7 linked regions of the Homo sapiens genome follow. The protein of the gene in region 1 purifies or fractionates together with the protein of each later gene. This does not show direct contact. Each region holds a gene or a part of one and is shown in the gene's direction. Other genes may lie near its edges. The genes, in order: SLC13A2, AMFR, PTTG1IP, ADPGK, RAB14, RAB11A and GDA.

Region 1 (4,330 bases):
CGGGAGCCGGGCTTTTTTCTTGGCTGGGGCAATTTGGCTTTTCCCAATGCCAAGGGGGAGAGGTGAGAGTTGCAGGGGTTGGGAGGAGGACACATCTGGGGCTCACATGCTCGGGAAGGAGGGAAGGGTATAGGGCCCCCATTGCAGAACAGGAGGTAACACTTGGTGGGGGATGAAGGTTCCCCAGGCTTGTCTATGGGAGAGGCTCATCTCCACCACCCTCCACCCTGTGGCCCTGAGCAACCCCAAGCGGCTAACCCAGCCCTCCCCGCGCCCCCTCCACCAACAGCATGGTGTCCGATGGGACAGTGGCCATCTTCATCGGCATAATTATGTTCATCATACCCTCCAAGTTCCCAGGGCTGACCCAGGACCCAGGTAAGCACCTGGACTGGGGCAGGGAAGGGTCTCCGGGCAGCCCCTGCCTTCAAGTATGTAATGTACCTTCCACCACACTTGGCAGGAGTAGGCAAAGCCCAGAAAGGCTGGAGCGACTTGCCAAGGGCACAGGGACTCGGAGACAAAGTTGAGATGTTGCAGAACTGAGGGTCCCCTCCTGCACGCGTTAAGCTCCAAAAGGGACCCACACAGGGAGCCCGCAAATGGAGAGGGGAAAGGCCTGTTTGTTCTTTGGTGACCCATCCTTCTCTGCTTGGGAAGTAGAAAACCCAGGGAAGCTGAAGGCCCCTCTTGGCCTCCTCGACTGGAAGACGGTGAACCAGAAGATGCCGTGGAATATCGTGTTATTGCTGGGTGGTGGCTATGCCCTGGCCAAGGGCAGTGAGGTGAGAGGCCCCCAGCCCCCTCCTCAGCCTGTGTGAGGGTGTCTCTGTGGCAGGGAGAGAGGGGGCCCTGCTTCTGTCCCACAGAGGGGAGACCTGGTCCCCACGTAGGAGCCTCTCGGGTAGGCAGAGCCTTTGCAGCAGCTGGGAAGACTTAGGTTAGAGCCCTCATGTGGGAGGAAGAAACACAAGCCCTAGGGACCTCTTTGTTCAGTTCTCAAAGTCCAAGGGAAGGCAGGATTCTCTGGTGGGCAGAGCCTGTTCTCAGAGACAAATGCCATCCCACCCCAGCCCTTTGCCCGCTGCCAGAGCACACAGTAGCATCAGCACCAAAGTAATTGGGGGTTGTGTTGACGCGGTCTGCCCTCCGCAGCCACCAGGGGGCACCATGATCACACCCACCCAGGCTCTGGGGACCAGAACATCTTTCCCCAGAGCCTCCATCCAAAAGAGGGAAATCCCTGACACGGCATCCCTGGGCCTCCGTGTTCTGGCTCAAACAGAAGGTGGCTGCCCAGGTCAGGGATCGGTGCAGGGGACTCCTGGGTCTGTGGCATGTTCATCCACTGACTGTGCCCAGTCCTGTGCTAGGCGCTGGCCCCACTGAGCGAGATTAAGTCCCACCTTACAGCCTGGCATTCCAGACGTGGGAAGGCAAGACCTCGGAGCTCTTCTGACCCTGTGGACTGTCCCTGTCCTCCCATTAGCCTCTTGCAGCCTCTGTCAGGGTCCTCCCCCAACTTTCCCTCCCTGCCAGGAGCAAGGTTCCCTCTGCCCCAAGCCACTGGACTGGAAGGGGCAGGAAGAGGGCTAAGGTTGTCCAGGGACCTCCTGAGAGAGGTCAGGAAGGCAGGAGTCAGTGCGGTCAAAGATTTTTGCTCCCACCAAGCCCCAAATTTCCCAAGAAGGCCCTTTGGCCCCCTCCTAATTTCTCATCTGCCCCTTCTTCCCACACCCAGCTGTTCTTCAAGAGCAGGAAAGGGCACCCCTTGGTCTTAGCTGGGTCCTATCATCCCTTTAGAGCTGTCTTTGACTCTGAATACCAGGGAGATGTTAGCAGGAGCAGGAGCCTCATAGAGCCTCGGCAGAAGACTTGGGGGCCCAGGCAGCCTTGCCTCTCACATGCCATCCTCCTCTGCCCACAGCGATCGGGCCTGTCAGAGTGGCTGGGAAACAAGCTGACCCCACTGCAGAGTGTGCCAGCTCCAGCCATTGCCATCATCCTCTCCCTCCTGGTGGCCACCTTCACCGAGTGCACTAGCAACGTGGCCACCACTACGATCTTCCTGCCCATCCTAGCCTCCATGGTGAGCTGGCCCTCAGAAACACCTCCTCCAGGCAGCCCGCCTGCCTGCCCCACCAGGGGTTCTGCCTGCTGGGCAGAGTATCCTGTCTTTGCACCTCCTCTTTTCCTTTTCCTGAAGAGGACCCCTGAGTTTCCATCCTTCTCCAGGCTCTTGAGCCACCTTGGGCCCCAAGGCGCTTTGGCCCCTGACTCACCCCGTCCCTCATGATGTCACCCCTGGAGTATCCTGATGGGGATCCTGGTGGCCTCACCCACCTCCCCACCCCAGTCCCTGTTCTGGTCATTCCTGAGGTGACGGGGTGAAATTGCTCCCCGAAGCGTCCCAAGCCCCTTCCTCCCCAGGCGTGTTCCTGCAGCCTTTGATGACACCCCCGGAGCCCCTTTGAGATCAGTTTTATGGGCCCCTCCCCTCACCACACCCCACAAGGCAGGGCAGCACACTCATTCCCTCCAGAGAGGTCAAGAGGCCCTTCCAGGTCACCCAGTGCCTTCTGGGAGAAGAGGTGGGCTCATGACCAGAGAGTGTATTAGGGTACAGGGGTTGTTCCCCAGAGAAGCAGGAGAATTGGGGGCCATGCCCCTCCCTCTGGCTTGGGGACCAAGTTCAGCTCTGCGCCACTGCCTCCCACTCCAGGCCCAGGCCATCTGCCTCCACCCTCTCTACGTCATGCTCCCCTGCACTCTGGCCACCTCCCTGGCCTTCATGTTGCCTGTGGCCACCCCGCCCAATGCCATCGTCTTCTCTTTCGGGGACCTCAAAGTGTTGGATATGGTAAGTGGCAGGGAGGCCTGAATGCCTCATCCCTCCTTCCTGCTCTGACTTTTCATCTTAGTGAACCACAAAGCAGCTTAAAGCCACTGAGAGTCTCAGAGTTGAGCGGGTCCTCATCTGGAATGAAGGTGCAGTTGGGGAGGTTGGGACATGACCTCTCAGTGGTGGCATCTTCAGGCCCTGCCAGCCCCAGGCTATGTGAGAGGGAGGGAAGTGGGTGGGGAACATGGGGAAGGCTCCAAGGTGCCAGGCACCCACACTCAGGGAGATGAGCTCAGAGAGAACAAGCCCAGGGCCCTGGAAGCTCAGGAGGAGCGCCCCTTTCCCCTGTTAGCACAGGGAGTAAAGCAAGGGGCAAAGGCATTGGCTATGCTGCAGGTTAGACCAACGGGAGGACTTCCCAGAGAGAATTTTGCTGGTAGGAGGGCTCCTGTGCACCCCCAAACACCTGGGGACTTGGGGGCAGTCCAGCCCAGTCCCTGCTTAGCCAAATGGACTCTCCTCACACCAGGCCCGGGCAGGATTCCTCCTCAACATCATTGGAGTCCTGATCATCGCACTGGCCATCAACAGCTGGGGCATCCCCCTCTTCAGCCTGCACTCTTTCCCCTCCTGGGCACAGTCCAACACCACAGCCCAGTGCCTGCCAAGCCTGGCCAACACCACCACACCAAGCCCCTAGGCTGGGGCACAGCCTGGCCATGCCCAGGAAGACCCACCCCATTCCCACTCCTCTGAGCCCGGAGGGGACACCCCAAGCTCCAAGCTCCAAGCTCCAGGCCAAAGGCTGAAAGGCACGTGTGTACATAATCTCTTGCGTGTCTGTAAGGAAGGGGTGTATGCTCAGTTTCCTATGTGCTGGAATAAAAGGTGTGTGCATGTGTGTGTGCGCATATGTGTGCGCCTGCATGGATGTGAGGGGTGTGTGACGTGAGGCTATCTGAGGGGGGCTGTGTGCATGCACATGATCCTAGGTATGTATGTTGGACAGTGCACACGTGTGTGTTCACAGACAATACAACATGCCCTCTCTGGTGCCCCAGGTCTTGGTATCCCCAGCTTAGTGACCAGACTTACTTGCACTGTATTTATTGAAATTCAGGCTTGGAGTGGCCTGGGAGGAGGGCCTGCCAGCAGCTGCCACGGGAACAGCCTCTGGGCTGTTAAAGTCACATTAAAGTCTTTTTCAGTAAAGTCTGGGATGGTTTTTCATGGCACTCTCCAGGGCTAGTCCCCAATGTGGTTCAGACCCCAGGTTGGGGGAGTCCAGAAGGAGGGGGCCTGGCCTTTGTCCTATATGCAGCCCCCTTGGCACCCCTCCCACCCAGGGGGGAAGGTAATGGCCGGGCATCCCTGCCAAGGCCCATCAGAGTGGGCGCAGCCACCTAGGAGAGCAGCACTGACATCACTGGGCCTGGCTAATTGGGAGCTGCCAGTCCCTGCGTGTCTTTGGGAAAACCAGCTTCCCCG
Region 2 (3,500 bases), on another chromosome or scaffold:
CAATTGTGCTAGCCCTAATAGACTAGGAATGCCAATTTCAGAGAGGAGGACTAGAGCAAGATTGAGAAAGAAACAGAACAGAACAGGCACTGTCCTGAGTCCTGTTGAAGGTGAGAGGAGAGAGTTGTATACCCTCGGAACATTGCTTCTAGAGGTTTATAATCCCAGTGCTAGGAGGATCTTTGAGAGTAAGGGATGAAAATATAATGCATATTGTTATACTCAGTAAATTAAATGACACGGATCTCTAAATATCACCTCATGCTCATATTTGGGTTATTGGAGAATAGGACCATATAGTAATGGGATGCTTTTCTGTGCTTAGCACAGAACCCTAAGCAGAGAAGCCAAGATTGACCTTGAATTTCTCAGTGAAGTTTAACACTTCCATGAAGAAGAATGAGCAGTTTCCTACTGTGTGCATTTCAGCTTTCCTTCTCGCCCACCACGCCGATGAGCAGCCACGGTCGAGTCCTGTCCCTGTTGGTTGCCATGCTGCTTTCCTGCTGTGGACTGGCGGCCGTCTGCTCCATCACCGGCTACACCCACGGAATGCACACCTTGGCTTTCATGGCTGCAGAGGTGAGATACTGGATGCAGGACTTGCTCAGATTGTATTTCTGTCTGTTTTCAAGGAAGCTGGATGTTTGACAAGTTATTTTCACCCATGAAATGACAGGTGGATATTTGGTCTTTCATTTTAACAAGCATTTCAGTTCCTTTTTGTGTGTTGGGTACTGGTACTGAATGCTTTTGTGTGGTATTTTATGTAACTCTTTCTTTACGTAGGGTATAAAGATTTTACAAAATAATGAATAAACTGTACTCATCATTTTGAAGGAAAAATCTGGTCTATTCATGAATATTTTAAGATTTAAAAATTTTTCACTCTTTTAAACCTTTCTGAAAATACCAATTTCTGTTCAGTAGAAATAAAAATTCTCCAGCCTGGCCAATATGGTGAAACCCTGTCTCTACTAAAAATACAAAAAAAAAATTAGTTGGGCGTGGTGGCGCACGTCTGTAGTCCCACCTGCTTGGGAAGCTGAGGCAGGAGAATTGCTTGAACCCGGGAGGCGGAGGTTGCAGTGAGCAGACATTGCGCCACTGCACTCCAGCCTGGGTGACAGAGCGAGACTCCATCTCAAAAAAAAAAAGAAATAAAAATTGTTTGTATGTCCTTATATTTAATGGCTATATTTGCCTTTTCTTCAGGCCAAAGGCAAAATACTTTTATCTTACCCATAATTAGTATTATTAATTAAAAAATGAGATATTAGATAAACTGAAGCTAATTGGCTAATATCAAAACACTACATTTGAACTACTCATTGGGAATTTGGTAGAGCAGAGTTAAAGTTTATTTCTGTTTGATAGCATTCATTTTTGAGTACATTTAGTAGTGTAAGTAAAATTAGAAAAGAAACATTTAAATACATAATGTTAATTATCATATTATAATATTGTAATTAAAATACAATAGTCCTAATATAAATAATAAGATATGTAATCTTAGGTGAATACTTCTGTATATGAAAAATATACAACCGTATTTCGTCTTGACAGAAAATCTGTTGAAAAATCCATTTACACTGACTTATTTGCTTTAGATTTATTGCAAAGTTAGAATGATACTTATGTTTGCCTTTTTTTGATTCTCTAACTTTCAACTAATATAATATTATCCAAACTTTGAAAAGGGTATACCTAAAAATAAGCACATTTAACTTAGGCCCGTCAGCTCATACTATAGTATATACTTTTATTTTAGCTTGTTACTGTTTATTCTTTTAAGATAATTTATCATATTACAGATTTGATATTTTAAACTAAATCATTTCTTACATTCATAGTGTTTCTCTCTCCTGTAAAATATTTTTCACTTACAAATGGGAATTTAATCTAAAACATAAATAATGTAATAGTTTTATTCTACTAGATTAAGAGGACTTTTTTTCTTAATGAAAAATATCTTTTTTTTTTTTTTTTTTTTGAGACAAGGTGTCACTCTGTTGCCCGGGCTGGAGTGCAGTTGCTTACTGCAACTTCCACCTTGTGGGCTCAAGTGATCCTCTCATTTCCTTAGTAGCTGGGACCACAGGCATGAACCACCATGCCTGGCTAATTTTTGATTTTTTTGTAGAGATGGGGTTTTGCCATGTTACCAGGCTGGTCTTGAACTCCTGAGATCAAGCAGTCGGCCTGCCTCGACCTCCCAAAGTGCTGGGATTACAGGTGTGAGCCACTGTACCTGGCCGTCAATTTCTGTAATAAAAAAAATACCCTTCAAGACCAGCCTAGCCAACATAGCAAGACCTTGTCTCTACAAAAAAAAAAAAAAAAGCCATGAGAGACTTATTTTGTCCCTCTCCTCTCCTCCCCTCTCCTCTCTCCTCTCCTCTCTCCTCTCCTCTCTCCCCTCTCCCCCCTCCCCTCCCCCCTCTCCCCCTCTCCCCCCTCTCCCCCCTCCCCCTCCTCTCTCTCCCCTCTCCTCCCCTCCCCCCTCCCCTCTCCCCTCTCCCCTTCCACTTCTTCCCCTTCCCCTTCCCTTCTGACAGGGTCTGGGGTCTGGCTCTCTCACCCAGGCTGGAGTGCTGTGGTGCGATCTCTGCTTACTGCAGCCTCCACCTCCCAGGTTCAATCCATCCTTCCACCTCTGCCTCCCAAGTAGCTGGGACTACTGGCACGTGCCACCATGCCCACCTAATTTTTGTATTTTTTGTAGAGATGGGGTTTCACCATGTTGCCCAGGCTGGTTTTGAACTCCTAAGCTTGAGCAATCCTCCTGCCTCGGTCTCCCAAAGTGCTGGGATTAAAGGTGTGATGTGGCTGGCCTTATTTTGCTTTTGATTGCTTTCGTTCTTTTTTCTGCTGGTGGACAAAGGGAGTGCACAAAGCACTAGGGAGAGAGCAGGTCCTCGTGTCTAGGATAGCAGTACCTGAACTATACTTGGAGTTACAGCATCACCCTTCTAAGTAATCAGTGATAGTGACTTAATGCTGTGTGAAATAGAATTGATGGTCAGACTACCAGGGTAAACCTCAAGATTGTAGGGGGATTCCTGGGGGGTAGGTGTAATTGGTTGTCACCTATTAACAGGACTTTTCCTCAATAAAAGTTGGGTTTCTAGGTCATAAAAATATTTTACAGAAATTTGAAGCAGAGAAAATAAAATAATGGGTAAACTTGAACAATCTGCTTTTTAATTGAACTGAGAAATGTTTGTCTTTTATCATTTTATAAAAAGTTTGGCCTGAGCAATGCTACATTTTACTAAAAAGAAAATATCCTTTTTTATAGTCTCTTCTTGTGACAGTGAGGACTGCTCATGTGATTTTACGGTGAGTGAAATTGGGGAGGGAGGTGATGGAGGCCTACTCATACAGTTGATTTTAAGATGTAGCAGGTATGAAATATATAAAAATCGGACTAAATTACAACATGGTTAAACCAAATTCAGTAGTAACAGTAAATTACTAAGGTGTTTTCTCTCTTCATT
Region 3 (4,330 bases), on another chromosome or scaffold:
GCCTTTTTCTTAGGATTCCTGATCTCGCCCACCCCTTGCCCCTTCCAGTCAGGAGTTTACCAGGTTTTGAGAACTGCAGGGCCAGAGGCTTCCTTTCCCCGGCAATGAGGTTTCATGATATGAGGAGGCCGGGAAAGATGTATTCGATGATTTCTATTCTAAGGCATGAGCCATGTTCTTAAAAACTCTTCTTCCTCCACGAGACCGTAGCGTAGGTTTGAGGAGGCCGGGAAAGATGTATTCGATGATTTCTATTCTAAGGCATGAGCCATGTTCTTAAAAACTCTTCTTCCTCCACGAGACCGTAGCGTAGGTTCGAGACACACCCTGTCAGTTTGTGGGACTTAAGTGGATACTTGCATTTGCTGATTAAAAATTGAAAGACGCTGTTTCTGTGGTTTCAGATCTTGACATTGGTGATGTTGAACCTGCTCTAATGCGCCTGGTCCTGGTGCATTTTCTAGATGGTGCTTCTTTTTAGTCTCTGGATTTTTCTATTGGAAGTCATTTCAGCTTTAAACATAGCTCACTATTGTATGTGGCTTTGTAGCCTAGAGTGCGTTTTTGCCATAGTACCCTGTGTAACCCTCACCACCCTGGGCAGGGTGTGGTGATGACAGCCATCTCGTGGATGAGGCGGCTGAGGGACTTGCCCAGGTCATTGTGGATGGGGCCAGTCCAGAAGGGCTGAAGGCCTGACTCCAGTTCTGAACCCAGACAGGGCGGTGAAGAGGGCCGCTTGCCCTACAGTAGCTCCAGGCGTGTGTGGGTGTGCTCTTGGGCACACAGGAGGTTTCTGGAAGGAGGTGTCAGTGCCTGGGAGGTCTCAAGAGGACCTGCGTGTTGGAGCAGTGGCTATGGTGGGCTGTGTCCACGCTCCTGAGGCCGTGGCGGGCTGTGTGTCTCTGTGTTGCCGAGGCCGTGGCGGGCTGTGTCTCTGCTGCTGAGGCCGTGGTGGGCTGTGTCTCTGCTGCTGAGGCCGTGGTGGGCTGTGTCTCTGCTGCTGAGGCCGTGGTGGGCTGTGTCTCTGCTGCTGAGGCCGTGGTGGGCTGTGTCTCTGTGCTGCTGAGGCCGTGGCGGGCTGTGTGTCTCTGTGTTGCCGAGGCCGTGGCGGGCTGTGTGTCTGTGCTGCTGCCTGAGCTGCTTGCTATGTGCATATTACTTCATCGATCAGAAAAGCAGCACAACCACCAGAGAACACCGTATCCTCCCAGTGCAGTCCTGTGGCTCATGGTACCACTGTCATGGAAAAATGGAAAATCAGACATTTACAACTTGAGCCACTTGAAAAGGGAGGATTAGCCAAAAATCGTTAATTGCAAGCAAAACCCCTGAAATGGAAGATACTCCCAAATGACCAGAATAAACAGGGTTTAACTGTTAATTGTTACATTATGCTGGAAACCACTTAAACACGACACTAAGGTGGTCACTGTATAAGTAGCCCTGGGAAAGAAGGCCCAGGGGACATTGTAATTAATATTTTTTTGTAATAGACTTTTGCCCTAACCTGGGCCAAAAACGCCATGACTTTCTATCCTATTAAAAAGTCAGTAACACTGTTAATGTGGAGATTGGGAGTAACAGGCAGTCTGGACTTGGGTCTGGACTTGGGCTGGCGCATGAGGTGCTGCCGAACGGCAGTTCTTTTTTTTTTCCTTTTGAGACGGAGTTTCACTCTTGTTGCCCAGGCTGGAGTGCAATGGTGCGATCTCGGCTCACCGCAACCTGCGCCTCCTGGGCTCAAGCGATTCTCCTGCCTCAGCCTCTGGAGTAGCTGGGATTACAGGCATGTGCCACCACGCCCGGCTTATTTTGTATTTTTAACAAAGATGGGGTTTCTCCATGTTGGTCAGGCTGATCCCGAACTTCTGACCTCAGGTGATCCGCCCTCCTGGCCTCCCAAAGTGCTGGGATTACAGGCGTGAGCCACCGTGCCTGACCCGAACAGCAGTTCTTTCACCCCTTCCTGTGCCATCTGCCTGCGTGCTAGGCTGTCCCCTGTCACGCTCAGTGCCTGGCTCACAGACCGCTTTCGGGCCTCGTTGTGTACTGCTGTGGCATGGGCTGGGCCCAGCTCTGGGCTCTTACACACACACACACGGGTGTGATGGTGTTGTCTCCACACCACTGCGGCCTCACACCTGACGTTCAAGGGGCTCAGACAAGAGCGTCTATGAGGTTCTCTCCAGCTGTCAGTTTAGGGCGGGCTGAGCCGTAGTTGCATCATCTTTCAAGCTGTGCGACTTAGTGCAGTTGTGAAGGTCAGAGGTAGGAAGCATGGTCCTTGCTACAGATGGTGACCATGCTCACCCAAGTCCATTCAACACAAACTCAGTGAGTGCCTGTGATGGGCCAGGCTGTGTCCTGTGTTCTTGGGAGACTTCAGCCAGTGAAGTGCACAGGTGCCCGGCGTGTGGGGAGGAGAGGTCTACGGAAGCAAACCTCACAGGAGGTGAGGAGGAGGGGGTGGAGGCGGCTGGTTGTGTCCAGTCTGTTGATCGAGGCAGGGCCCATCCAGTCAGTGGGGAGCCACACAGATGTGGGGAGAGTGCTCCAGGCAGAACCGGCAGGCTGAGCTGAGGCTGAGAGCATGAGGTGGGGTTGGCAGCACTCAGGAGGCTGCCAACACAGAGGCCCCGTGGCCTCAGCAGGGTGAGTTGTGGAAGAGGCCTGAGTGACGCGGGCCTTGGATGAGTCCGTGGAGAGCTGACAGGGCTGCTGGCCGCTGTGCTGGGTGTGGACCGAAGGGCGCTGAGGGTGAAGGCAGAGATGAGGCGTTGAGGGGGAGGTTGAGCCTTTACAGCCATCCACAGAGCGATGGCAGCACTGGCGGGCTGTGGGCAGAGCCTGGACAGTTCTTTGGTTTTTCTGTTGTTTCTAATGCTTGCTTAATGTTGGTCTCTTTCAGTGTCTTTGGTGCAACACTAACAAGGCTTGTCTGGACTACCCAGTTACAAGCGTCTTGCCACCGGCTTCCCTTTGTAAATTGAGCTCTGCACGCTGGGGAGTTTGTTGGGGTAAGTCATTGTTTTCATTTGCTGCTTGCAAAATCGATGCTTCTTTGAAAATAGTAGTATGGGCCGGGCGCGGTGGCTCACGTCTGTAATCCCAGCACTTTGGGAGGCGGAGGCGGGTGGATCAAGAGGTCAGGAGATTGAGACCATCCTGGCTAACATGGTGAAGCCCCGTCTCTATTAAAAATACAAAAATTAGGTGGGCGTGGTGGCATGCACTTGTAATCCCAGCTACTTGGGAGGCTGAGACAGGAGAATTGCTTGAACCCGGGAGGCGGAGTTTGCAGTGAGCCGAGATCGTGCCACTGCACTCCAGCCTGGCGACAGAGCGAGACTGTCTCAAAAAAAAAAGAAAATAGTATTATGTGCTCAGTTAGCAGAAGTTGCTAGAAAATGTGCTGCCAGTAGCTCTGTGACTCCCAGGGAGAGGTTGGGAAGCCAGGGGTGATCTGCTGACCGGGAAAGCAGCCCTGGGGAACCTGGAGGACCTCCTTCAAGGTGGTCAGCCCCAGCACTGAGCTCTATCTCACCACGTTACAGAAGGTGTGGGGAAAAGGGTGAGTTTGAAGGCAACGTGTTTGACTTCTCTGCTCAGTATGTTTTGTTCATGTGTCACCCCTGAAACTCACCTGTGAATTCCCCTAGAATCTCCAGTTTTCCCAGCTTAAGAATCCCTGCTTGCGTAGACAGCCCTCTTTTTTTGTGTGCGTATCTTTGTATATTTGATTTTGGAGGCGTTTTTAAATTAAGGAAATCAGCTCTTGTGAGATTCAAGTTGTTTTCTAGTTTGCCTTTATTTATTTATTTATTTATTTTTGAGACGGGCTGGAGTGCAATGGCACTATCTTGGCTCACTGCAAGCTCCGCCTCCCAGGTTCACGCCATTCTCCTGCCTCAGCCTCCTGAGTAGCTGGGACTACAGGTGCCCGCCACCACGTCCGGCTAATTTCTTGTATTTTTTAGTAGAGACGGGGTTTCACTGTGTTAGCCAGGATGGTCTCGATCTCCTGACCTCATGATCTGCCCACCTCAGCCTCCCAAAGTGCTGGGATTACAGGCGTGAGCCACTGCGCCCAGCCCCGTAGTTTGCCTTTTAAATCAGTTTGTGGTGTGTTTTGTAACCTAGAACTCATTATTATGTAGTTGAATTTATTAATCTTTTAGGCTTCAGGTTTTGGGGTAATACATAGGGTTCCTAAACTTTGTAAAGAAGCAATATTTTCTTAAGGTGTTTTGATGATTCTTTTTGTTTATTTGCATCTTGGATCCCTCTGCAACTTACGTCTTACTTACCACTCTTCTAATTGATTTCC
Region 4 (4,330 bases), on another chromosome or scaffold:
TTTTGTTTTGTTTTGTTTTGTTTTTGAGATGGAGTCTTGCTCTGTTGCCCAGGCTGGAGTACCATGGCACGATCTCAGCTCACTGCAACCTCCACCTCCCGGGTTCAAGCGATTCTCCTGCCTCAGCCTCCCAAGTAGCTGGGATTACAGGTGTCCACCACCACACCCAGCTAATTTTTGTGTTTTCATTAGAGATGGAGTTTCACCATCTTGGCCAGGCTGGTCTCAAACTCCTGACCTCATGATCCACCTGCCTCGGTCTCCCAAAGTGCTGGGATTACAGGCTTGAGGGTGTTTATAGTTTTTGAAGTAGTTATTTTCAAAGACAGGTTTCCCTCCATTTCTGAACCTTTACTCTTCAGACTCGGGACCCAAATCCATTTGGATACAATTTTTTTAGACTGGGCTGTCTGGAGGAAATGGTATCCCTCCTTACTCAAGCCCTCACTGTCTGAAACTTAGGAACCTACTGGCGTCTGAGAGCTACAGATACTTGTATTCCTGTTGATTCTACCAATCTAATGTTGCATTCATTAGAAATAAAGGGCACCATGTCTGAGGTAAAATTGAGACCAGTTTGCAAGGTGTGTTTGGTTTCTTAACATTGAAGGTTGTGAAAGGAAAGATTTTAAACATATCTTTAAGCAACTGCCACGTGCATGTCCAGAATGGCCCCTTCTGTGTGTGTCATGGAGAAGTTCTGGCTTATATTTTCAGTGTTTCTTTACTAGAAATCATCCCTCTTTTAAAGAGAAGGGCCAAATACAGTAGCTAGATGTTTTATGCACTGAAAGGCATAGTAAATCTTAGGTTATGCTTCTCCAGTTGACCAGAGTCATTATGTGTGTCTTGAACAAGAAACTGAGTATTTAAATGCTATTTGATAGGCAAAACTCCTTTCAAAACATGAATCCCTAGGGGAAGAATTAATAAAAAGGACCCTTATAATGAGGATGCAGTCTCTTTGTGTCTTGAGGGAGGATGTCTCTTCCTTGCCCTTGTAAATCTTCCTTAAGTGATGTAAATAATATCTAGTCTGCATACAAACCTTTTTAAAGTTATGTCATTTTAAAAATTCTAAAAGGAATACAAGCATGTTAAAAGTAGAAATATACCTGGTAAAATTCCTCTTCATCCCAGTCTCATTCCTCTTCATTTTTGAAAGAGACTAAAAGGGAAATACAACTATGTATTTTACACCAAAATCTCATCCATTGGGACATTTTTATTAATGAGTTTACCTTGTGGTTTCAGAGCTGCTCAGAATTAACTCTGAAGCCCAGTCACCCGTATCACTAGGGGTGGTCTCAGTTTGCCGGCTGGGAGCTGCCTGTGTGGTAATCCAACCTCACTGGCCAGAATGACATCCCAATAGGCAGAGGCAGGAATAAAGATGACCATGATAGGGGTAGGGGCGGGAAGACCTCATCTAGCTACCTTAATTATTTGAACGTTCTCTTTAAAAGAGGGATGACTTAGCAAAGAAACCCTGAAAATGTAAGACAGACTTTCTCCATACACACATAGGAGAGGTCATGCCAGACAACCTTAGTACAAGTTGAGCATCCAGAATGCTCTGAAATCCAAAACTCTGGGGCACTGACATGATGCCACTGATGTATATTAAGTACTTATATGTGAAAATTCCACCCACACGTAAGGAATAGAAACTTTATTTCATGCACAAAAGTATTTAAAACATTGTATAAAGTTACCTTCAGGCTGTATGTATAAAGTATATATGAAATGTGTTTGGACTTGGGTTGCATTCCCAAGATATCTCATGTATATGTAAATATTCCAAAATCGGAAACACTCTGATCTCAAGCACTTCAGATAAGGGATTCAACCTGTACTTTATAATTTCCATCGAGACAACCAGGAGTGGCAGGTCTTTAACGTTCATGGGTCAGTCCTGTGAACACTGGCCAAAGGGTGAGTTCTTAAAATGCTGCAGGTGTGCCTAAGTCTGTAAAACACCACTAAATTCTAAGAGGCAGGGTTTCAGCTGGGAGTACTCAGGCATTTAGGAATTTATTGTATCTTACCATCCTCATTTGTTTTTAGAGGGAAGATGCCTGATACCTAGCCTTTGACTGAAACACATATTTTGCTTACTCTGCGCCAATTGCTGTTCCTAAGTATACATTCACTTATTTAATCTTAACCATAGCTCTATGAGTTAAATGCTCATATTATTGCCATTTTGTGGATGAGGAAACCGAGGCACAGAGAAATTAGTGACTTGCCCAAGTCACACGGCCAGCATGAATCCTGTTTGGCTCTGCCAGCGTTTTTCTCAGAAATGTTACATTTTTGTTACAGTAGCTTTGTTCTGAAATGCTAAGCACCTATCTTCTCACTTTGTAACTAGTGTAAAAGTTTGCCAAATTATTGAAGAGTCCTGTGTTCTGATGCTAATACATAAATCCAGTTAAAGTAATTTTTCTCCTGCCATGTGCTGTTTACTTCCCAATTCAGGTTTCAGACCTACTTCCTGTTTTTTCTGTTGAATAAGGTTCTGAGAAACATTTTCCTTTTGTTAAATGCAAAATGGCTACTTGGTGCTTCTGCTGCTTTCACACAGTTTTTTTCCTCCTTCTAGAGTCAATGCATGTGTTGATGTGGTGCTCTCAGGGGTGAAGCTCTTGCAGGCACTTGGCCTTAGTCCTGGGAATGGGAAAGATCACAGCATTCTGCATTCAAGGAATGATCTGGAAGAAGCCTTCATTCACTTCATGGGGAAGGGAGCAGCTGCTGAGCGCTTCTTCAGTGATAAGGAAACTTTTCACGACATTGCCCAGGTTGCATCAGAGTTCCCAGGAGCCCAGGTCTGTTTGGTTCAGCAATAGTAAATTAAGGGTGGAAAAAGATGCCTTTTTAATATGGTTCCTAGAAGCAAGCAAGCAACTTTTCATTCCAGTTTGAAGAGGAGGGGAGCAAAATCACCCCTGGTTGAAAACTGTGGGTCTAGGTTGATGGTTCTCAGACTTGAGCATGTGTCAGAATCATTTGGAGAGGCTGTTGAAACACAGATTTCTGGGCCTACTACCAGAGTTCAGATTCAGTAGATGTGGGATGGGACCCAAGAATTTACCTTTCCAGCAAGTTTCCTGGTTGATCCTGTAGGTCTGAGAACCTCCTTTTGAGAACCACTGGTCTGCAAGGTAGAACCTGTCGAAGTTAGAACCTTAGTGGTTTCCAAGTTCACCTGGTGATTATATACAAAGCCCTGCATGGTCCAGGCACTTCCTGGAGGTTCACGTGGAATAAGAGGCAGTGCTGGGGCTGGAGACCCAACCATGGCTCTTCCTACCTCACCCCAGTATGCCTGCTCCTACATGTACCCTCATGCCTCTTGAGGCTGAGTTTTGGTTGGTTGGTTATCTCCCATGTCTTGCCCCCACCCCATTCTTCCTCCTCATTTAAACCTCCCTTTGGCTGGGCACCCAGTCTGGTTTGGTAGTTCTAGCCAGGGAAGCTCTTAATGCCATTTTTAATTGGCACCTTTCACAGGCAAACCTTTGTGACTACTTTTATTTTGATGACTTAAGATTTTAGGCCGGGCACAGTGGCTCACGCCTGTAATCCCAGCACTTTGGGAGGCTGAGGCAGGTGGATTGCTTGAGCCCAGGAGTTTGAGACCAGCCTGGGCAACATGGTGAAACCCTGTCTCTACAAAAAATACAAAAAATTAGCTGGGCATGGTGGCATGTGCCTGTGGGAGGATCACCTGAGCCCGGGAGGTCAAGGCTGCAGTGAACCATGACCGTGCCACTTCACTCCAGTCTGGGCAACAGGGTGTGACCCTGTCTCAAAAAAATTTTAAAAATAAGTTTTTTGTCTTCGAAGCTGCCTATTTGAACATTAGAAATGGACATAGGCATTACCTAGCTGAGTTTCTAAAGGTGACAGCAAGTTAAGATTTCAGTTATCATTTTGACAACTGGGATCAGTAGTGAGATTCTTATCTCTTATGAGAGAATCTCGATAGTTCTAACATGATGAGTTCACTGCTCAAAAGTCTTTATGATTACGGAATTTAAACCACCAGTTTGATTTCTCTTCTCTCTTGATTCTGCCTTTATTTCTTGATGAAAAAAATTTTTACAGCAACTTGATCTAGCTTTGTGATGGTCCAGGTTATTTCTTAACATTGTAAAACCCCTTTCACTAGAGGAGTGCCTTTTCATACTTCCTTATAGTTTAAGGCAGGTTGATAAACATTATATGAAAATTCTGAAATCCACTTTGTAGATATCTTACTATTTTCCCAAGATTTTTTTTAGTAAATTCTAACTATCGTGGTTGAATAAAACATTAAGGCTGA
Region 5 (4,330 bases), on another chromosome or scaffold:
ATATCAGTCAACTATGGGAATATATTTAAATCTAGACAGTATCTTCTTAGAATAAGAAAGGGAAGACCTGTTGTGAGTGTTGGTGGCTACAGTGTTAAATGTTTTCTGCCTTTGTTTACTGAAATTAGTAAGTTTGAGTAGTTTTCCTTTAATTCTGCTTTTATGGTTTTTATTTGTAATTTTTAAAGAAACGAGCAAGAAAAATGTGTGGTGTGGTGAGACAGAGCCCTGGTATTAAATCCGAAATAGTGATCATTTCTTTTATTTGGAAATAGTTTCTACTATATGAATGTTTGTAATTTTAAGATACATTTTCAAAATTAGTTATCTCACATTTAATGAATGTATGATAATTAGCAGGTACACAAATTAGTACAACTAAAATTGGGTCACAATTTTATGATAGTCTTTAAAGCATTTGAAGTAGAAATTTGGGATTGTTAGAAGTCATAGCTTTAACATAAAATAGAAGGAGCAAAGTATGTACAGCTACAACCTTTAGTTAGAAGAGGGAAAGAAATTAGGAAAATCAAGGGAGAAGAGCACAGAAGAGACAGTAATTTGAAGGTGACTAAGTGATTACTTTTACCCAGGTTTGAATGGGGAAAGAATTTAGAAGAATTAAAAATTGATTAGAAGAGTCGGAAGAATTCAAGTTAAGAAGTTAATAATCTTTAAATATTTTTAATGTAAGAGATTACTTTTCCCCCTTGTGTTTGGCATCTGGTTCAGAGATCAGGTAAATAATCCAGACCAGTTTTAGTCTCAGGACCAAGTTCATTCTTAAAAGTTTTGAGTTCCTAGTGCCTGGAAAAGGGAATAAAGTTGTTGTGATGTTCAGAATCAGTTAATCTAACTAGAAAAACTCCCTTTCCTGAAAGAACTGGTTAAGGGAGTTTTCTGTGATGCAGGAGACTGATTATAAATGTGTTAGAACATGCCAAACTGGAATGGGTAACAAGGCTTCTACTTTCACTAAATGTAATACAGATAGCTAAGTGAGAAGACTGTAGTGTGTGGAAGTGATTAATACTTTACTGTAATTAACAACTTCCTCTTCCCTTATAATAATACACTTGTTTTAAATATATATTCTTTCTACGGGTTCAATGTTGTTATATAGAACTTTTGCTTGAAATATGGTATATAGTAAGGTGATAATTTCAGTAAATAAATTTCTCCAGTCATATTAAATGTCTGGCTTGTGTAATGTGACATTGACAGAAACACTAAAAGCCAGGCTTAAAAATACTGTAAGTCAGATTTTTTTAAATGGGTGAAATCTTTATATGTATAAATAATTTTTGTCTTAAGCTGAAAGCTGGTTTGAGAATAAACTTTATTGAAAGTTATTACCAGTTTTACAGTTCAGCCCCTTGTTTCTCTCTAGGACCTAGCACGTGTCTTACACATTCAGATAATTCATTTGAATAAATTGGAAAGTTTTTTGTTTTCTTTTTAAGTAGAAGAGAAATTAGAATTCTTTAGGTTAAGTCTATTTGAGGGTAAGAAATGGGCTGTGATCTTTTGAAATATCTTCTAATACACAAGCTTTCAAATTTTGCAACCATAAGTACAATTTTATGACATTATTTCTTTCAGTCCCTAGAATAGTGTATGGGAAGCACTTACTATGTTGTTAATCTGGCTGGGCACAGTGGCTCATGCCTGTAATCCTAGCACTTTGGGAGACTGAGATGGGAGGGACGCTTAAGGCCAGGAGTTCAAGACCCAAGACCAGCCTGGTCTTCAAAAAATGTGTGTGTGTGTGTGTGTGTGTGTGTGTGTGTGTGAGTGATAATCTGCAAGTCCTGTATTAGGTTGAGCTATATGAAAATGCCAATAAACTTTGACTTGAAAAATCTATAGGAAGAACAGTTTCATGTGATTCAGTCTAGTTCCAACATTGATTTGGAAATCATACGATTGCTCTTTGCGCTGCTAACTGTTGATTTAAAGTAGAGTAAAAACGTTGTTTTGTGTTTATAAATTAAGTGGTTCCTTTATATACCATTCTGTTTAATATCAGAGTTCTGAACAAGTAGATCATTAGTAACTTACTTGATCAGTTAACAGGGAAGGGGACTTTAAGGGGAGAAGAGACTATAGTGATGTTTAACTTAAATTTATAAAGATTTTTTTGTTTGACAATTTTCAGATTAATACTTATTGGATTTTTTTTAAATTATACTTTTAAGTTCTAGTGGATATTAAGTGAAATATTGGAGTTGTGGTATAAATGGTTTCTTATATTTCTGTGGATAGCACATGAGAATGTGTAAGCATCATTCATCCAAGAGAATTTGTGTATTTGATCAGTTTGTGAAATGCAGTTTTATTTTGACTTACTGTAACCAACATTTGTTTGTATTCAGTGTCCTTTTCTACCTTTAAAGGATATCAGTCATCCGTTTGAATTACTTGTATATGCTTTCCTTCTGAAGTAACAGAGATTTCTTTGTTTTTAGTGCCACCATGGCAACTGCACCATACAACTACTCTTACATCTTTAAATATATTATTATTGGTAAGTTTATTTAACTTACACTCTTGTTCCCAAAAGAAGGTTAACATACAAAATATTTATATGTTAATACTTAAACAGTACCACTTCAGGACTGAGTGATTTTCTTACTGTAAAACTAAAACTCCTTTTATAAGATTTATTTTTGCATTAGCAATGCAGCTTTTGCATTGTGGCCATGGATATTTCTGTGGTACAGTGCTGGTGGGTACCTTGTGAAGTGATGTTCATTGTTCTTGAGGGCTGCTTGAAAGCTTTTTGATGCTAGGAAGTATCAGTGTTTCAAGGAGTGCAGAAACATTCCTAAAATACTGTGAAAGCTCTCAGATTCCCCTGGGTTTCTGTTATAAGGAAAAATTGGTAGAGAATATTGTTTGATTCCAAATCAATTGTGTAATATATATAAAATATAGTATTTTTCTTAATTGGTGTTTTTTTCCTTAAGTTTCAAGAAGGTTTTGCTCAAATTAAGTCTTAATGCTATTTATCCAAACATAAAACTACATTTGAAAGTACACGTTTTTCAATGAATTGTTCACATTAGAACAGTTTGCTTTCATGTTGAACTTAATGTGTCCTTTCTAATGTTTCCTTCATCAAGGGTTAACATTGCTATAGTACAGTCAGAGATGACATCTTTTCTCCTGGGGTTTTCATGTAATGCAAATTCTTTTCTTTCATAGAATAATACAAGAAGTATAAGACAGGGACCTAGTGAATCAAGCTTCCAGAACTCAGTTTGTTATTTCTGCTTGTTACATGCTACCCCATTTGTCAGTTTTTGAAATTTGTTGCTTTTATGCATGAGTTTAAGGAAAAAAACAAAAGAAAACAAAAACATAAAATTTTGAAACAGCTCAAAGTAAAAAAAATTCCATTAAAAAAATAAGCACTTCCCAGCTGGTGGCTATTTATTAACAGTAATAATTTACAGCCAAATTCTGTCACTGCTAAAGATTGGGAATAATATTCCATTTGTGTCTCACAGTGAAAACTTTTGAATCATTATAAAGTAGGAAAATAAAAATTTGTTAAGTGTCCCAGAAACTTGTGATATGTTATATGGTAAGGAATATAGCGATCATTGCATAAAATTGAGAAATGTAATTGCCACCTGAAACTTCTTTTTTTTTAAACAGGGGACATGGGAGTAGGAAAATCTTGCTTGCTTCATCAATTTACAGAAAAAAAATGTAAGTTCAATACATGAGGTAAACATTAATAGTTTTCTTTATCGCCATGTTTCTACTTTTTAGAAAGTGTCATTTTCAGTATACTTCATGCATTTAAATATAACCTTTCCCTATATTTGTACTTTTTTTAAATGGGTACAGATAAAATGAAATATGCCAGCATATTTTAGGGTTGATTTTTATACACATTATATAATCTGATTTGCTTGTTTTGATTTCTTGATGTTAAAATAATTTTTAAAAATACATAAAATAATGTCAAACTTAATCTTTTTATTCTCTGACTTTCTGTTACAGGAATTGATTGTCTTATTAGGAGAAATTTGCTGCATGTATCATTTGTTAAATAACAGATTTGAAATACTTAAAATGGAATTCTTTCTACTCTTTCTTGGGTGATAGAAGGGACCAATGTGTTGTAACTGATATGCTAAATATAGTTGAAAGTGTTTCTGTATAGTTGAAATTATTTCTTTGACATTTTTGTGCTGCTTACCACAGAGGTTTGATGTAACATTTTATGAAGTGCCCAGAAGTCTGTGTCCTTGTACTGGAGAATGGTGGGTTTAGGTTTTAAGTGGCCTCATTATAAGGAAAGGACTAATAAATTTGT
Region 6 (2,999 bases), on another chromosome or scaffold:
AGGCTAATTGTGTTAATTTGACACATTTTTAGAATTATCTTGCTTTTTGAGAGTAGTGTTTTTGGAGGGACAACTGGGAGAGTAAACAAAAATAAGGTACATTCTCTGTTCTTAAGGACTTTATAATCTAGTCACAGGGAACAACTTTTAGGCAGTGCAGTATAAGACCAAACGTGTTACATACAGATACTTATTGTGGAGGAATTTAGTGACATTCATGCGGTTATTTATTTATCACAACACATGTTATATGTTGCAGTACAGCAGTAAGACAGACACAGTTTTGATCCTTACAGAGTTTAACACTTAGTAAAAGAGGCAGACACTAAATTATTTTTGATAAGTGTCATGAAATAAAAATAGAGTTTACATATAACATCTTAAGTTGCCTATTTTGTATCATTCTTTAATTACAATTTAAGTTTTGTTCAGGAGGTCACTGATAAACACATTATCTTTTTTTCCCTTCCAAGAATCGTTTGGGATTTTAGCATGTTTGTTAAGATGTACTCTGCCGAATGCGTCTGATAGTGCAAATTTATTTATTTTTTGTGTGGTACAATGTCATTGTGTGTAGGCAATTTTTGTTTGTTTGTTTGTTTTTTGGGGTAAAGGTAGACTGAAAATACTCTTATGGTTTACTTTGAATCTAAGTCCATAAACAATGTAATGCTATTGGCTTACCTCTTTTTTTTTTTTTTGAGACCGAGTCTTGCTCTGTTGTCTAGGCTGGAGTGCAGTGGCACGATCTCATCTCACGACAACCTCCGCCTCCCGGGTTCAAGTGATTCTCCTGCCTCAGCCTCCCGAGTAGCTGGGATTACAGGCACCCACCATCATGCTTGGCTAATTTTTGTATTTTTGTAGAGACAGGGTTTCACCATGTTGGTCAGGCTGGTCTTGAACTCCTGACCTCAGGTGATCTGCCTGGCCTGGTTTACCTCTTTAAACAAAGATTTATTTGACTGGTGAACCTTTCCCTCTGACATGGAAAAACCTTTGTTTCTTTTCTTACCCAAAGGGCAATTGTTAAAATAAAGGGTTGAATCTAATCAGTGGCTGTTTGAAAATAAAACTTTAAATTTATGTATTCTCTGTTCAGTTTCCTTAGGGACTTTGATGCAAATATATCTCCTACCTTTATGTATCTTTTATCCTAACTATGATAGGTTTATTCACACTAAGTATTGTGGTTTCTTTTTTCCTTCAGAGATTTACCGCATTGTTTCTCAGAAGCAAATGTCAGACAGACGCGAAAATGACATGTCTCCAAGCAACAATGTGGTTCCTATTCATGTTCCACCAACCACTGAAAACAAGCCAAAGGTGCAGTGCTGTCAGAACATCTAAGGCATTTCTCTTCTCCCCTAGAAGGCTGTGTATAGTCCATTTCCCAGGTCTGAGATTTAAATATATTTGTAATTCTTGTGTCACTTTTGTGTTTTATTACTTCATACTTATGAATTTTTCCATGTCCTAAGTCTTTTGATTTTAGCTTTATAAAATCATCCACTTGTCCCGAATGACTGCAGCTTTTTTTCATGCTATGGCTTCACTAGCCTTAGTTTAATAAACTGAATGTTTGGATTCCTCAGTTATTGTTTACTTTTCATCATGGAAGCCTGTCACTGTATGTAGGACATAATAGAACTTGATCACTTGAAGCTCAGACCTATTGGTCTTGATCAAATCAAACTAAGAAGACCTTAGAAATAAGCTACCATTTTGCCACAGAGCAGCTTATAGGTAATACACTCTTCTCTCAGTGCAGTGTACATTTCCACAAATCTAAGAATTGCCCTATAAACATAGCAGGATTTTGAGAGCTTGAAAATTTTCCATTATTCTGGACATGAATTTCTAAAATGCCTTAATAGGTTTATGTAGTTGAGTAAATTTTGTTTTTTAATTTTTGTAAGCATCAAAGTTGATTAGAGAGGGGGGCACTTTTTCTGGAGAATTCTCTTAGTAAACACAAAAGATTGTTACGGTTTCATTAGTAGTATGGTTGTGGGGCCATAAGTTAAACAGTGCTGCCTGGTAGGCTGGGAACTGAAGAGACTTGTGGTATTCCATCTCGGGTGCCTCTGTTGGCAATGATCAGGCAGCCCAAAAGATTTAAATGATCTATAATAATTTCCAAGCGGTAGATTATGTGGCATTTTATTGCTCAGGCAATAATTGGTTTAATGCTGGTAGTGTCAAATTTTGAAGTGTTAATTTTGTCTTAGAACCTTCCAGTAAGTGAAATACAACCTAGTTTTATCACCATATCCACCAGCAGGCATGGATAATTATTTTAACAATGCTAATATTTGAGTTTTGCAGTATATTATAGAATATAGTCCAGTTAAATCTTTGGTTTCAGTATGTCTGAAGAGTACAGTGAGAGGTTAATTTCTGCTCAAGTGGTACCACTTAAAGGCATGTATTCTTTTAGTATGTAAAATGAAATAGTACCTTGAGTTTAAATAGAATGCATTTAGGCATTGTAGAGATCTGAAATAGTTTTCTTCCACTACATTGTTGAAATCAATGAAGCAATTAGTTTCTCATTCAGAAATGTGCACACTAATATTTAGTTTTGCTTTCTCGTGGATAATATTAAGCACTTACTCTGCAGTTTCCTGGAAGTTGTGTCAACTGCAGTGATACTATTCAGGATGGTGGGAAATCCCCAAAAATATGTATGTGTGGGCTTGCTTAGATTACTATATTTCATAGTTAATCTTTTGTCTCTTGCGGTGCTCATGATGTGTGGGGCACACGGAAGGCATTGCTGTAGTCAGTCATTTTGGTTTTCTTCTATAGCCATTTTATTATTTTAGTGTATTAGTTATGAAGATAATATTATCTATTTGTAAATTGCTACTTTGTATTTTATGCATGCTCTGTAATTTGATTTTTTTTTAGTTATTGATTTGGATTATATTCACATTCTAATAAACAGTTATAGGGGGATTATTTCTTATGCTGTCAGATTACATTTTTCCTTTGAG
Region 7 (4,330 bases), on another chromosome or scaffold:
AAATAACAACAACAACAAAAAATGGAACACACTGGATCTAATTAGAGGCTACTGTCTAAGGTACGGCATGTTCATTTCTATTATCCTAACTCCAAACTATTTCAATCCTGCAGACACTTGAGCTTCTGATGTCTGTACTAGTCAAGAAAACCCTGTTTTTTCACAAAGGAGGAAACATGGAATGTAAGCAACCTTCTCAAGGTCACGTAGCTAATAACAGGCAAAACGTAAGCAAGAGCCACTGTCTGGAGGGTTTTCCTCTGCATTTAAAAGCTTCTGCTAAAGATATGCCCCAAAGTATTCAATCCACTAGTCCTTTTTCCAAGTGCTCAGACAGGTCAGGCAATATCCGTTCCATTTTCTTTCTTGAAGATCTTCTCACCTCCTCCCATTCTCTTGTTTCTGGTCAGCATTCTCTGTAGCACTACTGTAATCTTGGCATTCTCTTTGCCTCTTTCCTGCGTTTAATGCCCACTCCCTGGATCCAGGAATTACTTTGGATTACTCTTGTGTTTTACTAAAAGACAGTTTCTAAAAGCTTCCTAAGAAAGAGTTCATGGAGAGTAAAATTTTCAAGTCCTTCGGTACTTAATCATATTTCTATGCTACCTTCACACTTGATTGATAATTTACCAAGGTATAAAATTATATGTTAAAAATAACTCCTGTTGTGACAAACAACTTATATGTACTTGTGGGAAGACCTCCTTTTTAATTGCTAGAACATGAGCATTGCATTTTTTGCAAGTACTTAATTGTCTGTGTATCACTGTGGCCCTTAGAAAATTTTCTAAAGTACTTAGAAAATAGAAACCTATATAATAGAGCGTTTTCTATTTTCTAAGTACTTTAATTATTTACTTAGGATTTTTGGTTACAGAATGATATATATGAGTTGAATTTGAAGGCATTGTTCTGCTTCCAGCATTGTTAGTGAGAAATCCAATGTCGTTGTGAGTCCTGTCATTTATCTGTGACCAGTTTTTTTTTTTTTCCTGGAGTTTTTAGCATCTTTTCTGTACTTACGAACTTAATATCTCACAATTATATGCCTTACTTTGGGTTCTCTTTTTATTCCCTGTGCTGACAATTCTATGAGGATTTTAATTTTGGAGATGAATATTATTTTTCATATTTTTGTCCCTTCCATTTATTTAAAAAAATTTAGATTTCTTATTCTAAATGTTGGATTGCCTAGATTGAGCCTAATTTTCTTATGTTCTCACCTTTGATTTTCATCTTTTCCTTTTCCTGAGCAATTCTCTTGTAATTTATCCTACAACCCTCCTACTGGCTTCCACATTTCATTTATAATATTTTTACTTTTGGAGAGCTCCTGCATTCTGATTTTCATAGCATTCTGTTCTTGTTTTGTGGGTGCAATAGTGTGTTTTATTTCTTTGAGGATGTGAGTCATAGTTGTTTTTTTTAACTGAGCTTTTTTCTGACCTTATAGATTATGTTTCCTCTAAGATTTTTTCCAGATTCTTTCTCCCCCTCCTTATCTTTTTGATAATAGATTCCCTCCAATGCCTATCAAACCCTGGACATACATTCATACTGTGATGCTATAAGGTGCTGACTGGAATTTCTGGGTGGAGGTATCACTTGTTGATGGTAACTTCATTATAGGATGAGTAGTGAAGGCAGTGAATTTGGGTCCCAAACGTCACTGTGAAGACATCTTTCTTTTAGAGCCATTCATTTTCTCTAGAAAATAATCGTTTAGTCCCCTGCCAGGAGTTGTGGGAGTAGTACACGTGGTATTCTGGGGAAAATGACTGAGTGCCCTTGAGGTCAGCCAGATTTTCACTTAAACCTCTGCTTTACCTTCTCTTTTGGAGCTTGTACCCTCTAAATACTATCCAGGTTCTATAAAGAGTAAATCTCTCTTATAAGGAAGAAGTTAAGGGTGGTTGGCTGATTTCAACAAGGTTCCTGCCAGGGTTTAATCATACCTGCATAGACTTCCAGCCAGTCCCCTGCTAAAACCCACACACTTCTCTCCTTCTTTCCAAGTTGCTTCCAGGTTCTCGTCCATGTTTTTTGTCTTCCAAGAAGATATTGAAATGTTTTCTCTGCTCATGTCTCTCCTCTCATGTTCTTCTTGTGGGTTAATAACGTTTGTACTCCTTTACTGTCATGTTTGTTGTAGTTTGCGAAGGAAAGGAGATAGATATATGTGATTAACCTTCCAGGTTGAGCTAAAGTCTGGCTGAATATTTTTATTCTGTAGTAGAAGAAAAACTTATTTATGTACTCCCAGATGCAATAAAATTTGGATATCCTTAAACAATCCTAAGAAAGAAGGAATTCATTAGTATCACATTTTAATGAATTCTGAAGCACAGAACTGTGTGAATCGAGAAAAAATCAGAAGTATCAGCTTCTCCTCCAGCTAACTTTTGGAATATAAATACCTTTTGCCATTTACCTAACTGTACTCTACATCAAGATGGCATACCTTTAAATAAAAACATTTTAAAATTAAAAACTAAAATTCTGTTTTCCTCTGGATGTACCATGTGACTTTTCTGAGCACACGTGATTCGCGGTTTTTGTGATTTATTTTTAGAGGAGAACACTAAAGAATGGAACAACCACAGCTTGTTACTTTGCAACAATTCACACTGACTCATCTCTGCTCCTTGCCGACATTACAGGTGAGCAAATGAAGCATGATTTATGGGCACCTCAAGCAAAGACAGCCAGACCATCGTGGCAAACAACTTATATGTACTTTTGGGCAGACCTGCCTTTTAATTGCTAGAACATGAGCATTACATTTTTTGCAAGTAATTACGTGTCTATATGTCACTGTGGCCCTTAGGAAATTTTCTAAAGTACTTAGAAAATAGAAAACTGTATCATAGAGTGTTTTCTATTTTCTAAGTACTCTGATTATTTACTTACAATTTTTGGTTACAGAATGATATATATGAGTCTGAATTTTGTGTATTAATTTAGGGCTTTTTAGGGAAACTTTACTAATTCTAGTTGTGGTAATAGTTTCTTATATCAGCAGATACATGGTGGCTATTGGCTAGAGTCAGGGCACTGTGCTAGATGCTGGAAACGCAATGAGATAAAAAATAGTCTCTGCCCTTGAGAAGCCAGACAGAATACCTACACCATTGATCACTAACCTTAGTAACAACTATGGTGCTGTTACTAGACGTCTAGCATTGTGCAAAGCACTCTGGAAGAATTAGTTCAGCAGCAAACAGCCTTCTGAAGTGGTTACTGATGTCCTCATGTTACAGATGGTTAGACTGACGCTCAGAGAGGATAAGTAACATGCCCAGGGTTGCACAGCTAGTAAGAAGAGCTGATTCTGGATTCGGGTTGATGATTCCAAAACTTGTACCCAGCACAGTACCTGGCACATAGCAGGTGCTCAGTAAATACTGTTGGCTGATACACTGATGCCACTGTTTGCTTATGCAAAAGACCTGACCTAATGGGTGACTCTGAAAATAGATACTACAGTCTTCAGAGAAGGCAAAGAGAACCCAGAACTACGACATCTGGGAAGGCTTTATGAAAGGGTCCTTTAAACTGGGCTTTGAAGTAAAGACAAGATGAGGAGAGGACAAACTGTCTTCTAGATAGGGGAAGGACACAGGTATGGGAACAGGAGTGTCAATAGTGGATGCAGGGACCACAGTAGTTTAACTAGAGGAGTGGATTCATCGCCTGGGGGCAGTGGGAGAAGAGGGTAGGCAGATGGGAGGGTTCACATTGTAGAAGAGCTCAAATATGCACCAAAGACTCAAAAAAGGTTCTGAGTCCAGGTGTGAGTGATGTGATGAAAGTGGTATTTTAAGGAAGATTAATCTAATGGCCAGTTATCTAAATGAATTACAGGGGAAGGAGAGAGGCAGAAAGGTTTTTAAAAATCTCTTATGACAGAGATGGAGACACTGTAAAAACAATTACCATTGTCCCATATAGCCTCAGCTTTCTTGCTGAAATAGAATTCTTCCAGCACCTTTGATGAGGACTAGGTTCTAGTGCTGAGAGCTGCTAGTAAGACTGCGTAAAATTCCTCACAGATAATATTGGCATTGTTTCAGTTAAGAATAGTATGGCCAGGCGCGGTGGTTAATGCCTGTAATCCTGGCACTTTCGGAGGCCGAGGCGGGCGGATCATGAGGTCGGGAGATTGAGACCATCCTGGCTAACATGGTGAAACCCTGTCTCTACTAAAAATACAAAAAATTAACCAAGCGTAGTGGTGGGCGCCTGTAGTCCCAGCTACTCAGGAGGCTGAGGCAGGAGAATGACGTGAACCCAGGAGGCAGAGCTTTCAGTGAGCTGAGATTGTGCC

The links.
Region 2: the proteins of SLC13A2 (region 1) and AMFR purify together in Homo sapiens (affinity purification with mass spectrometry; one large-scale study listed by BioGRID and IntAct). This does not show direct contact.
Region 3: the proteins of SLC13A2 (region 1) and PTTG1IP purify together in Homo sapiens (affinity purification with mass spectrometry; one large-scale study listed by BioGRID and IntAct). This does not show direct contact.
Region 4: the proteins of SLC13A2 (region 1) and ADPGK purify together in Homo sapiens (affinity purification with mass spectrometry; one large-scale study listed by BioGRID and IntAct). This does not show direct contact.
Region 5: the proteins of SLC13A2 (region 1) and RAB14 purify together in Homo sapiens (affinity purification with mass spectrometry; one large-scale study listed by BioGRID and IntAct). This does not show direct contact.
Region 6: the proteins of SLC13A2 (region 1) and RAB11A purify together in Homo sapiens (affinity purification with mass spectrometry; one large-scale study listed by BioGRID and IntAct). This does not show direct contact.
Region 7: the proteins of SLC13A2 (region 1) and GDA purify together in Homo sapiens (affinity purification with mass spectrometry; one large-scale study listed by BioGRID and IntAct). This does not show direct contact.

What each region holds. Positions count from the first base shown.
Region 1 is NC_000017.11:28,493,728-28,498,057, forward strand, and holds the end of SLC13A2 (solute carrier family 13 member 2), read left to right. Parts: coding exon 1-62; intron 63-289; coding exon 290-378; intron 379-463; coding exon of another isoform or gene 464-546; exon of another isoform or gene 547-646; intron 647-660; coding exon of another isoform or gene 661-663; coding exon 664-785; intron 786-1,927; coding exon 1,928-2,089; intron 2,090-2,722; coding exon 2,723-2,860; intron 2,861-3,371; coding exon 3,372-3,542; 3' UTR 3,543-4,054; downstream 4,055-4,330. UniProt on the Homo sapiens protein: Low-affinity sodium-dicarboxylate cotransporter, that mediates the entry of citric acid cycle intermediates, such as succinate, citrate, fumarate and alpha-ketoglutarate (2-oxoglutarate) into the small intestine and renal proximal tubule.
Region 2 is NC_000016.10:56,405,046-56,408,545, reverse strand, and holds part of AMFR (E3 ubiquitin-protein ligase AMFR), read left to right. Parts: intron 1-429; coding exon 430-582; intron 583-3,301; coding exon 3,302-3,342; intron 3,343-3,500. UniProt on the Homo sapiens protein: E3 ubiquitin-protein ligase that mediates the polyubiquitination of lysine and cysteine residues on target proteins, such as CD3D, CYP3A4, CFTR, INSIG1, SOAT2/ACAT2 and APOB for proteasomal degradation.
Region 3 is NC_000021.9:44,859,853-44,864,182, reverse strand, and holds part of PTTG1IP (pituitary tumor-transforming gene 1 protein-interacting protein isoform 1 precursor), read left to right. Parts: exon of another isoform or gene 1-215; intron 216-313; exon of another isoform or gene 314-390; intron 391-2,911; coding exon 2,912-3,020; intron 3,021-4,330. UniProt on the Homo sapiens protein: May facilitate PTTG1 nuclear translocation.
Region 4 is NC_000015.10:72,773,373-72,777,702, reverse strand, and holds part of ADPGK (ADP-dependent glucokinase isoform 4 precursor), read left to right. Parts: intron 1-2,605; coding exon 2,606-2,831; intron 2,832-4,330. UniProt on the Homo sapiens protein: Catalyzes the phosphorylation of D-glucose to D-glucose 6-phosphate using ADP as the phosphate donor. GDP and CDP can replace ADP, but with reduced efficiency.
Region 5 is NC_000009.12:121,191,558-121,195,887, reverse strand, and holds part of RAB14 (ras-related protein Rab-14), read left to right. Parts: intron 1-2,468; 5' UTR 2,469-2,475; coding exon 2,476-2,527; intron 2,528-3,663; coding exon 3,664-3,717; intron 3,718-4,330.
Region 6 is NC_000015.10:65,886,491-65,889,489, forward strand, and holds part of RAB11A (ras-related protein Rab-11A), read left to right. Parts: intron 1-1,210; coding exon 1,211-1,350; 3' UTR 1,351-2,999. UniProt on the Homo sapiens protein: The small GTPases Rab are key regulators of intracellular membrane trafficking, from the formation of transport vesicles to their fusion with membranes.
Region 7 is NC_000009.12:72,208,112-72,212,441, forward strand, and holds part of GDA (guanine deaminase), read left to right. Parts: exon of another isoform or gene 1-60; intron 61-113; coding exon of another isoform or gene 114-227; intron 228-2,575; coding exon 2,576-2,663; intron 2,664-4,330. UniProt on the Homo sapiens protein: Catalyzes the hydrolytic deamination of guanine, producing xanthine and ammonia.